2 separate regions of the Homo sapiens genome follow, and region 1 is linked to region 2. The links come from fine-mapping of genetic effects on gene expression. A gene starts in region 2. The other region holds a variant in brackets. All regions are shown on one strand. Distances are between the middles of the regions.

The links. PIP is the estimated chance that this variant, and not a neighbour inherited with it, causes the effect. A credible set is the group of variants that fine-mapping cannot tell apart.
Region 1: its variant is the best candidate, but not a certain one, in a credible set for the expression of TBC1D24 in spleen (GTEx, PIP 0.85).

The regions. Positions count from the first base shown.
Region 1 is chr16:3,409,794-3,414,173 of GRCh38, forward strand. No RefSeq gene overlaps it. Among named protein-coding and RNA genes, the nearest start is that of ZNF174, 11 kb to the left of the region's middle. The variant T/C (reference allele first, on the strand shown) is at 2,283.
Region 2 is chr16:2,473,259-2,477,569 of GRCh38, forward strand. TBC1D24 (TBC1 domain family member 24) reads left to right here and starts at 1,869. Exons shown (of 8, transcript NM_001199107.2): 1 at 1,869-1,912. It overlaps NTN3 (netrin 3), which reads left to right. Exons shown (of 6, transcript NM_006181.3): 4 at 10-60; 5 at 171-245; 6 at 498-887. The coding sequence ends at 847. RefSeq lists silencers at 471-620, 691-750, 811-1,080, 1,481-1,970, 2,431-2,630.

The sequences.
Region 1 (4,380 bases), 940 kb after region 2:
AAGAGTACTAAGGAGATATAAAAGGGAATTCTTCCCACTCTCCTTTCTCACTTAGCCCATTAGCTTTAAGAATAACAAAATGCAATGGGGGTACAGTGGCTCACACATGTAATCCTAGCACTTTGAGAGGCTGAGGCAGGGTGATCGAGCCCAGGAGTTTGAGACCAGCCTGGGCAATGTAGCTAAATCCTGTCTCTACAAAAAATACAAAAATTAGCCAGGCATGATGGTGCATGCCTATAATCCCAGCTAGCTACTCTTGGAGGCTGAGGCAAAAGTATTGTTTGAGCCCAGGAGTTAGAGGCTGCAGTGAGCTATGATTGCACCACTCCACTCTAGCCTGGATGACAGAGTGAGACTCTGTCTCAGGAAAAAAAAAAAATAGCAAAAGGATTGGGGTAATGAAAATATTCTAAGACTGGATTACAGTGATGGTTGCACAACTCAGTAAATTTACTAAAAATAATTGAAATGGGCTAATTTTATGATATGTAAATTGTACCTCAACAGCGTATTTTTAAGTGACAAAATATATTTATATAAAATGAGCCCTGGAAATAAGCCTGAGCGATCATCTAATGCCACCTCCTCGTTTTCTCAAAGCGGAAATTAAAATGCAAATCAGTATACAATTCCTAGCTCATTGCTCAGTTTAGAGAAAACTTTTGGCAGATTAGTGCATTCCTGATGCAGAAAATAAGAAGCAAGTAGCATTTTTTTTTTTTGAGACAGGGTCTCACTCTGTTGCCCAGGCTAGAGTGCACTGGCGTGATCATGCCTCACTATAGCTTCGATCTTCTGGGCTCAAGCAATCCTCCCTCCTCAGCCTCCCGAGCAGTTGGGACTACAGGAATGCACCACCATGCCTGGCTAATTTTTCTATTTTTTTGTAGAGACAGAGTCTCACTGTGTTGCCCAGTCTATCCTCGAACTCCTGGGCTCAAGCCATCCTCTCACTTTAGACTCCCAAAGTGCTGGGATTACAGATGTACGCTCAGCAAGGTAGCATTCTTCACAAAACATCAGTATCATCAAGTAACTACCAGTCACCTCAGGGCTGTGGGCTGAGCTCTTCTGTACCCCCCAAGGAATCTCTTGTCCCTTCTAACTGCCGAGGGACATATGCACACCTATGAGTCCTCTTTGGGGCCTTTGCACACAATTGTTTCCTTTGCCTTTATTTCCTGATGCTCCCCACTCCCTCCTGCCTCCTCCCTCTCACAAGAGTTTCCTTCTCTCAAAGCCTTCCCTGAGGAGCCCTAGGCAGACTTCTGTGAAAATTGGGGTCCAGCCTCTCTGCTAGACCCCATACACCAGGGGTGCTCAAACTGGGAGCCCCCCAGGGGTTGTCGGACAAAGTCCAAAGACACTTTTGGTTGTTAGGACTGGGGAAGGGAGGCTTGTTGCTGGCCTCTAGTGGGTTCTACTGAACCGCCTGCAGTGCCGGGACAGCCAGCCCCCACAGCAATGACCTGGCTCAAAAAATCAGTATCACCAAGGCTGGGAAACTACCATGCACTATAACAGCTCTTTCAAAACAAGAACATTGTTTTTCCATAACTTTAGCTTCTGGACTTTGTCAATAACCAGCCAAGAGAAACAGATGTTCAGTATGTGAACAGTTGAGAATCCCCACTGTACCCACAGGGCCCATGTCTGCCTGAGTTCAGAGATCCTGGTGACAATCTGTTGAATGCACAGGTGAGCTTCTGTCTTTTGGGCAGAGGCTTATTGAAGGCCCAGTGGCCTTCCTTACAGCTTTTGTGGTCCTTTAGGTACTTTAGGCCCTGATCCCATTCCCATCTGTTATGTTAGATCATGAAGAATTTAGCTTCTGTATCCGAGCTGCCCCATACCTGGCTCCATCCTGATACCTCTCCCTGGTCAAGGCCTCTTTCTTCCTCATTGTGTTTCCACCTCACCCTACTGAAACCAGGCTGATTTCACTGTTGTCCCTTAATAACCTCCAAGTCATAGTCACATCTGTATTAGGTACTTTGTGGTGTGGTAACAGATGACCCACCAGCTTAATGGTTTAAAACAACACAAACTGGGGCCGGGCGTGGTGGCTCACACCTGTAATCCCAGCACTTTGGGAGGCCAAGGTTGTGAAAAGTTCACCTGAGGTCAGAAGTTCAAGATCAGCCTGGCCAATATGGTGAAAGCCTGTCTCTACTAAAAATACAAAAATTAACCGGATGTGGTGGTGCACGCCTATAATCCCAGCTACTCGGGAGGCTGAGGCAGAAGAATCACTTGAACATGGGAGGCAGAGGCTGCAG[T/C]GGGCCGAGATTGTGCCACTGCACTCCAGCCTGGGCAGCAAGAGTGAAACTTGGACTCAAAAAACAAAAACAAACAAAAAAACACAAAAAGCAAAAAAACCGCCGGGCACGGTGGCTCACGCCTGTAATCCCAGCACTTTGGGAGGCCGAGGTGGGTGGATCACGAGGTCAGAAGATCGAGACCATCCTGGCTAACACAGTGAAACCCCGTCTCTACTAAAAATACAAAAAAAATTAGCTGGGCGTGGTGGCAGGCACCTGTAGTCCCAGCTACTCAGGAGGCTGAGGCAGGAGAGTGGCGTGAACCCAGGAGGTGGAGCTTGCAGTGAGCCGAGTTTGCACCACTGCACTCCAGAGCCTGGGCTACAGAGCAAGACTCCGTCTCAAAAAAAAAAAAAAAAAAAAAAAAAAAAAACCCACAACCTTATCGTTCTAGAGGTCAGAAATCTGAAATTGATTTCACTCAGCCAAAATCAAGCTGTCGGCAAGGCTGGTTCCTCTGAAGGCTCTGAGGGGTGAATCTCTTGCCTTGACTTTTTCAGCTTCTAACAGCCACCCACATCCTTTGGCCTCCACCCTCAAAGTGCATCACTCCAATCTCATTCCACCGCATTCTCCTCTGACTATGACCTTCCTGCTTGCCTTGTATAAGGACCGTTATGATGTTGGGCCCACCGGCATAATCCAGAATAATCTCCCTATCTCAAGATCCTTAACTTAATAACATCTGCAAAGCCCCTTTTGCCATATAAGGTAAACTTAATGGGTTCCAAGTATTAGGATGTGGACACATTTGGGGTGCCATGACTCAACCCACCGCACATATCCATCTTGAATCAAGTTAGTCAAAGAGCATCTCTCCTAAAAGAGAAGGACCATAGATTTCTACTTAATTATAAGGGTTGGGGTCAGGCGCAGTGGCTCACACCTGCAATCCCAGGACTTTGGGAGGCCGAGGCAGGCGGATCATTTGAGGCCAGGAGTTCAAAACCAGCCTGGCCAACATGGTGAAATCCTGTCTGTACCAAAAAAAAAAAAAAAAAAAAGAATTAGCCGCGTGTGGTGGTGTGCGCCTGTAGTCCCAGCTACTCACGAGGCTGAGGCATGAGAATCTCTTGAACCCGGGAGGCGAGGCTGAAGGAAGGTAGAGGTTGCAGTGAGCTGAGATCGCACCATTGCACTCCAGCCTGGGCAACAGACCATCCCCAAGCATAGCCTTCCTTTGGTATAAGGCTCAACTCCAGGCCAAGAGGACCAGGAAGGGTCCAATGGCTACAAGAACCCAAGGTCCTGTACTCAGATGTAAGTTTCCTCTCAGCCCCCGTACCCATGCATGGTCTGCCAGAGGACCTCAGCTGCTCCAATAGATTGTGATTCTCCGTATCCACCAGTCTGTCTCTACAAATTTTGGGGTGGCTGTTTGCCCTGTGACCTCACTTCTCTTACAGAAGAATTGTTGGGTTTTTCGGGTTGTTCAGCTTTTTATTTGTCATTAGAATGGAGTGACAACTTTCAAGCTCCTTATATTTGCAACCAGAGACTGGAAGTCACAAGAGTGAAACACCGTCTCAAAAAAAAGAAAACAGCAGTGAGACAGTGACTCCCTGACCTCACTGGCTAGATGAATTCCTCTTAAACCTTCTCAAAGCAAAACATGGCTCTACTTGGCTGCAGTTGCCCTCTCAATGCAGATCGCAACGAAACCCTCTCAATGCAGATCTCTGCCTTCCCGCCTCAACACTGCACCCGGGAGCCCTCCTCCAAGGGTCAGTGCCCGATAGGTTTGAGGGCAAGCCCCCGCCAGGGTGAAGCCGCCTCCTCCTCTGGGCCTGGGACGTGCTGGGAGGGAGGGAACGCGGTCCCCCGGGGAGTCACATGCCCCCATTCCCGGGGTCACCCAGGGACAACGGGCAGGAATAGACAGGTAAGGACCCTGCAGCTGAGCGAGCCCTGTGGCCGGATGTTCCAGGTAGGCTTTTCCGGAAATCGCCACCGGAGGATAGAACGCTCCTAGGGTGAGGGGCGGGGCCTCGACAGGAAATACCTGAAAGAGTCCCCTCTGAGTGGGCTGCTTGGCGCCCAGCCCGAGGAATTCTCA
Region 2 (4,311 bases):
TCTCTGCAGAGACCCCTATCCCTGGACCCACTGAGGACAGCAGCCCTGTGCAGCCCCAGGGTGAGTGGACACAGGACAGGGCCCCAGACTGGCATGACTTTGGGGGAGGGGGCTCTGGGAGGAGAGGGTGGGGAAAGGGAGTCTGTGCCAGCCTCCCACCTTCTACCCAGACTGTGACTCGCACTGCAAACCTGCCCGTGGCAGCTACCGCATCAGCCTAAAGAAGTTCTGCAAGAAGGACTATGGTAGGTGCCCTCAGGCCTCCCGCGGACCTTCCCACCTTCCTCCTCTCCCTACCTTCCCTCCTCCGCCAGCTTCCCCTTGGAACGCCTTGACCCTTGCTGGGCCCCAAGGCCCATCCTCATCCCTCAGGTCCTCCACGGGCAGCGACCCCGCCCCTTCAGCCCCCACTGCCCTCCTGGTGTCCTCCCCGTGCCTCCCCCTACCGCGGGCAGGCCGCCCCTTCCTGACCCCGCCCCCTCTCGCTCTCCCCGCAGCGGTGCAGGTGGCGGTGGGTGCGCGCGGCGAGGCGCGCGGCGCGTGGACACGCTTCCCGGTGGCGGTGCTCGCCGTGTTCCGGAGCGGAGAGGAGCGCGCGCGGCGCGGGAGTAGCGCGCTGTGGGTGCCCGCCGGGGATGCGGCCTGCGGCTGCCCGCGCCTGCTCCCCGGCCGCCGCTACCTCCTGCTGGGGGGCGGGCCTGGAGCCGCGGCTGGGGGCGCGGGGGGCCGGGGGCCCGGGCTCATCGCCGCCCGCGGAAGCCTCGTGCTACCCTGGAGGGACGCGTGGACGCGGCGCCTGCGGAGGCTGCAGCGACGCGAACGGCGGGGGCGCTGCAGCGCCGCCTGAGCCCGCCGGCTGGGCAGGGCGGCCGCTGCTCCCACATCTAGGCGCACGTTCACCCTGTGCCTTCGCCTGCCAAGGAGTCCTTGCTCGCGTCGCGCGTGTCGCCACCTGGGCCGCCGCCCCGTCCCCGCCGGCAGCTCCCTCGGTACCTCCCGTCTGGCCCTGGGGGGATGTGACCGGCGCAGCGACAGCCCGCCCCGCACAGAGGCAGATGATATGGCACACCCGGAGGACCCCATGGTCTCCCGCCCTCTGGCTGTCGGCCCTGTCCCAGGGGCACTGGGATACCCGGAAGGCTGTGAATCCTTCGTGATGCCGGGCCCTCTCGGGGATCTCAGATCATCCCCGGGGCCGCTGTGATGCACCCCCACCTGTGCGGCGACCCGCCAGGGAGCGCACTGACCTCCCCAAAGACTGTGGCCACCGCAGGCGCCTTGGACCCCCATGGGGGGACAGGGCGTCCCCTGCCTCCTGCAGCCCCACGAGGGCGGCGGCCTTGGCCCCTGCGGGCTGGGCGTCCGCGTCCGGGCGCCCCGCGGCGTCTGCTGCCGGGTCCCGTAACTTTCTTGGCCGCCTGTGTCCCCGTCTGCCGGCTCCGTCCGGCCGTCCCTCTCTCTGCCGCGTCTCTGACCCTCGGCGCCACAGCTCCTCAGCTCAGGGCCCGTCCCAGAACCTCCTTCCAGCCCTTCTCCCCCGACTCGGGAAGGGACGTCGTGCCCACGCGGTTCCGGATCCACGCGTGACCCGGCCGGACCGCGACTCCGACAGGCGGCTGTCCGGGCCCCCGATGCCCTCGGCAGGGCCGTGCCACCCCCCGCCCCCCTTGGCTTGTCCCCCCGGGACCGCACTGCCGTTGCCTCCTCTCCGCACGGGACCGGTTCCCGGCCGGCCCCAGCTTCCGCCGCTGCGGCCGCCGACCGTCAGCGCGCATGCCCAGAGCCGGGCAGGCCGGAGCCCCGCGGGCTCTCCGGGGTGGGCACAGGGCGACAGCTCGGCGGGGGCGGGGCCGAGCACGCGCGTGCGCAGAAAGGCCGGCGCGGCAGGCTGAGGAGAAAGCGGCGCGCGGAGGTGGGTGCGCTCGGGGCGTGCGGGGGGCGCGCGGCGGGGTGGCGGGTGGCGGGGCCGGGTCCCCGCTGTCACCGCGGTCGGCGCGTGCTGGGGGCGGGAGCGTGGGGGCCGGGCTGCGGGCCCCATTCGAGGCGGGGATCCCCGGCCACGCGCGGGTTGGGGGCTCCAGAGCCCGGCACCGCCCGGCGCTGCAGCTGCGGCTTGGCCTACGGGAGGGGGCGCAGGAGCGGGACCCCCTGGGCGCGAGGCCCGATCCCCGCCCGGTCGCTGGCCCGCGGCCCGGCCCAGGGCATGGTGTCGTCTGGAAGAGTGACTGTGTCACTGTTTCCTTGGGGCGCTTTCCGTCTCCGCAGGGTCGGAAATCCTCTTGGGGGCTCGGTGAGATTGCAACAGATTCTGATACGCCCTGCCCTGTGGACCTGCAGCGGCCCCGGGCCCCGCCCCGCCCCGCCCAGGGATGACACACGCCCCCACCGACCACCCGCTTGGGGGTCCGCCAGCCCCCGGCCCTGTCCAGTGGGGGGCCCCTCTGGGTGCGCCGTGCCAGGCGGCCGCTGTCCTTCGGGCCCTGGGAGGTGGAAGCCAGGGACTCCCAGCCCTGAGCCAGCACAGCGGAGGGGAGAGCCGGCCCCACCTGGGCTGGGCTGCACCTGTTCCCGCCCCCTCCAGGCGGGAGTCCCCGCGGCCTGGCCACAGGCCTTCTTTGATGGCCGTGCCCCGCAGGGAAACGCGCTGTGGCCCCCGGGTTACTGCTTGCGGGGGTGATATTAAAGGTCAAAGGTTGTCTAAAAGCCACCTGGGTGGTGTGGAGGTGCAGGTGGGCTGTTAGGTTGGTGGCTGTGGTTGTGAAGCCGATGTCACTGTCTTTACCCAGCAGCTTATTCCAGAAAGGGGGCGTCAGCCTGCCCTTCCAGTGCCGATAGAAGCACTAGCGGGTGATTTTTCCCTGTTTTGCTGTGTTTGCTCTGGAGTCACCAGGTGACTTCCAGGCAGTGTGCAGAAGGAACCGTCCCATTATTTGGCACGTGGGCCGTTTCCTCCACCCGAGGTCCAGGGCTCCGTCTTCACAGTCTGTCCTCAGCACACAGTAGGCACCTGTAGATGGCACACGTGGCGTTTCCTCCGCCCGAGGGCCAGGGCTCTGTCTTCAGCACACAGTAGGCACCTGTAAATGTTTGCTCAGTTGCGGCGAAGACAAGCAGTCAGGTTCTTTTCATTTTAAGGAACACACACTGGGAAAAAAAACCAATCCAGATTAGAGAAGATCAGAAAATCTTACGAAGATTTTACAGTTACTGTTCCTAGCCTGTGGCGTGACCCCTGCGTGCACCGCCTTTTATTCTGAGGGTTGATCCTCATCTAATCTGAACACTCAGATAGAGGCTTTACATGGAGGACTTATTGGGGAGTGCTTGCTCTACTTAGAAGCCTGTCTTTCCCTGTGAAGAGGGCGGGAGCCACGCTGTTCATCTTTGCTTCCCCACAGCCTGGCCAGGGCCGGACCAGAGGTTTTCTCTACATGATGGTTGAAGTGGATCAAGGTCCTTTTGTCGGAGTGATAGATGTCAACTATTGCAGTGGCTTTCCACTGGGTTGAGGGTGACCTTCCGAGATGCAGAAGTAATCTAGGCAAGGTTTTCATAACAACAATAAATTTGGCCACCCAGGGTCTGTGAAGTCACCTGTAGGGTAGCCTTACTAGCTCTCGCTGACCACACCTGCCAGGAGTGTCCAGCAGGCTCGAGTGACCTTGGGCATGCAGTGTTGCTCTTAATTATCTACAGATTGAGCCAAGCTCAGAAAACATATTAAATGTTTGCCTTTAGATGGTTTCTGGTTTAAAGTACATAAGGACAATGAAGCAGGTTACAAAAAAAGCACTTAACATTTACCCTGTTCAATGTTTTACCTGTCTGAGCATACCTTTTCTGTTATGACAACTCTGTAAATGGAAGAAAGAAGTCCTTTTCAACTCAAAGCAGCAATTTCAGTGGCTGTTTCAAACATTGCCTTTCAATTGGAGATAAAATCAAAGAAACAAAACCTCAGGCTTTTTACTGAGGACCAACTTGAATTCATTATTCAATGATTTTCTGTATCCTTTCAACATGTGTTTGTTAAGCGAGGTGCGGTGGCTCACGCCTGCAATCCCAACACTTTGGGAGGCTGAGGTGGAAGGATCGCATGAGCCCAGGAGTTCAAGACCACCTTGGGCAACATAGGGAGGTCTCGTCTCTATAAAAAATTAGCCAAGTATGGTGGCATGTGCCTGTGGTCCCAGCTACTTGGGAAGCTGAGGCAGAAGGATCACTTGAGCCTGGGAGCTCAAGACTGCAGTGAGCTGTGATTGTGCCACTGCACTCAAGCCAGGGCAACAGAGTGAGACCCTGTCTCTGAAA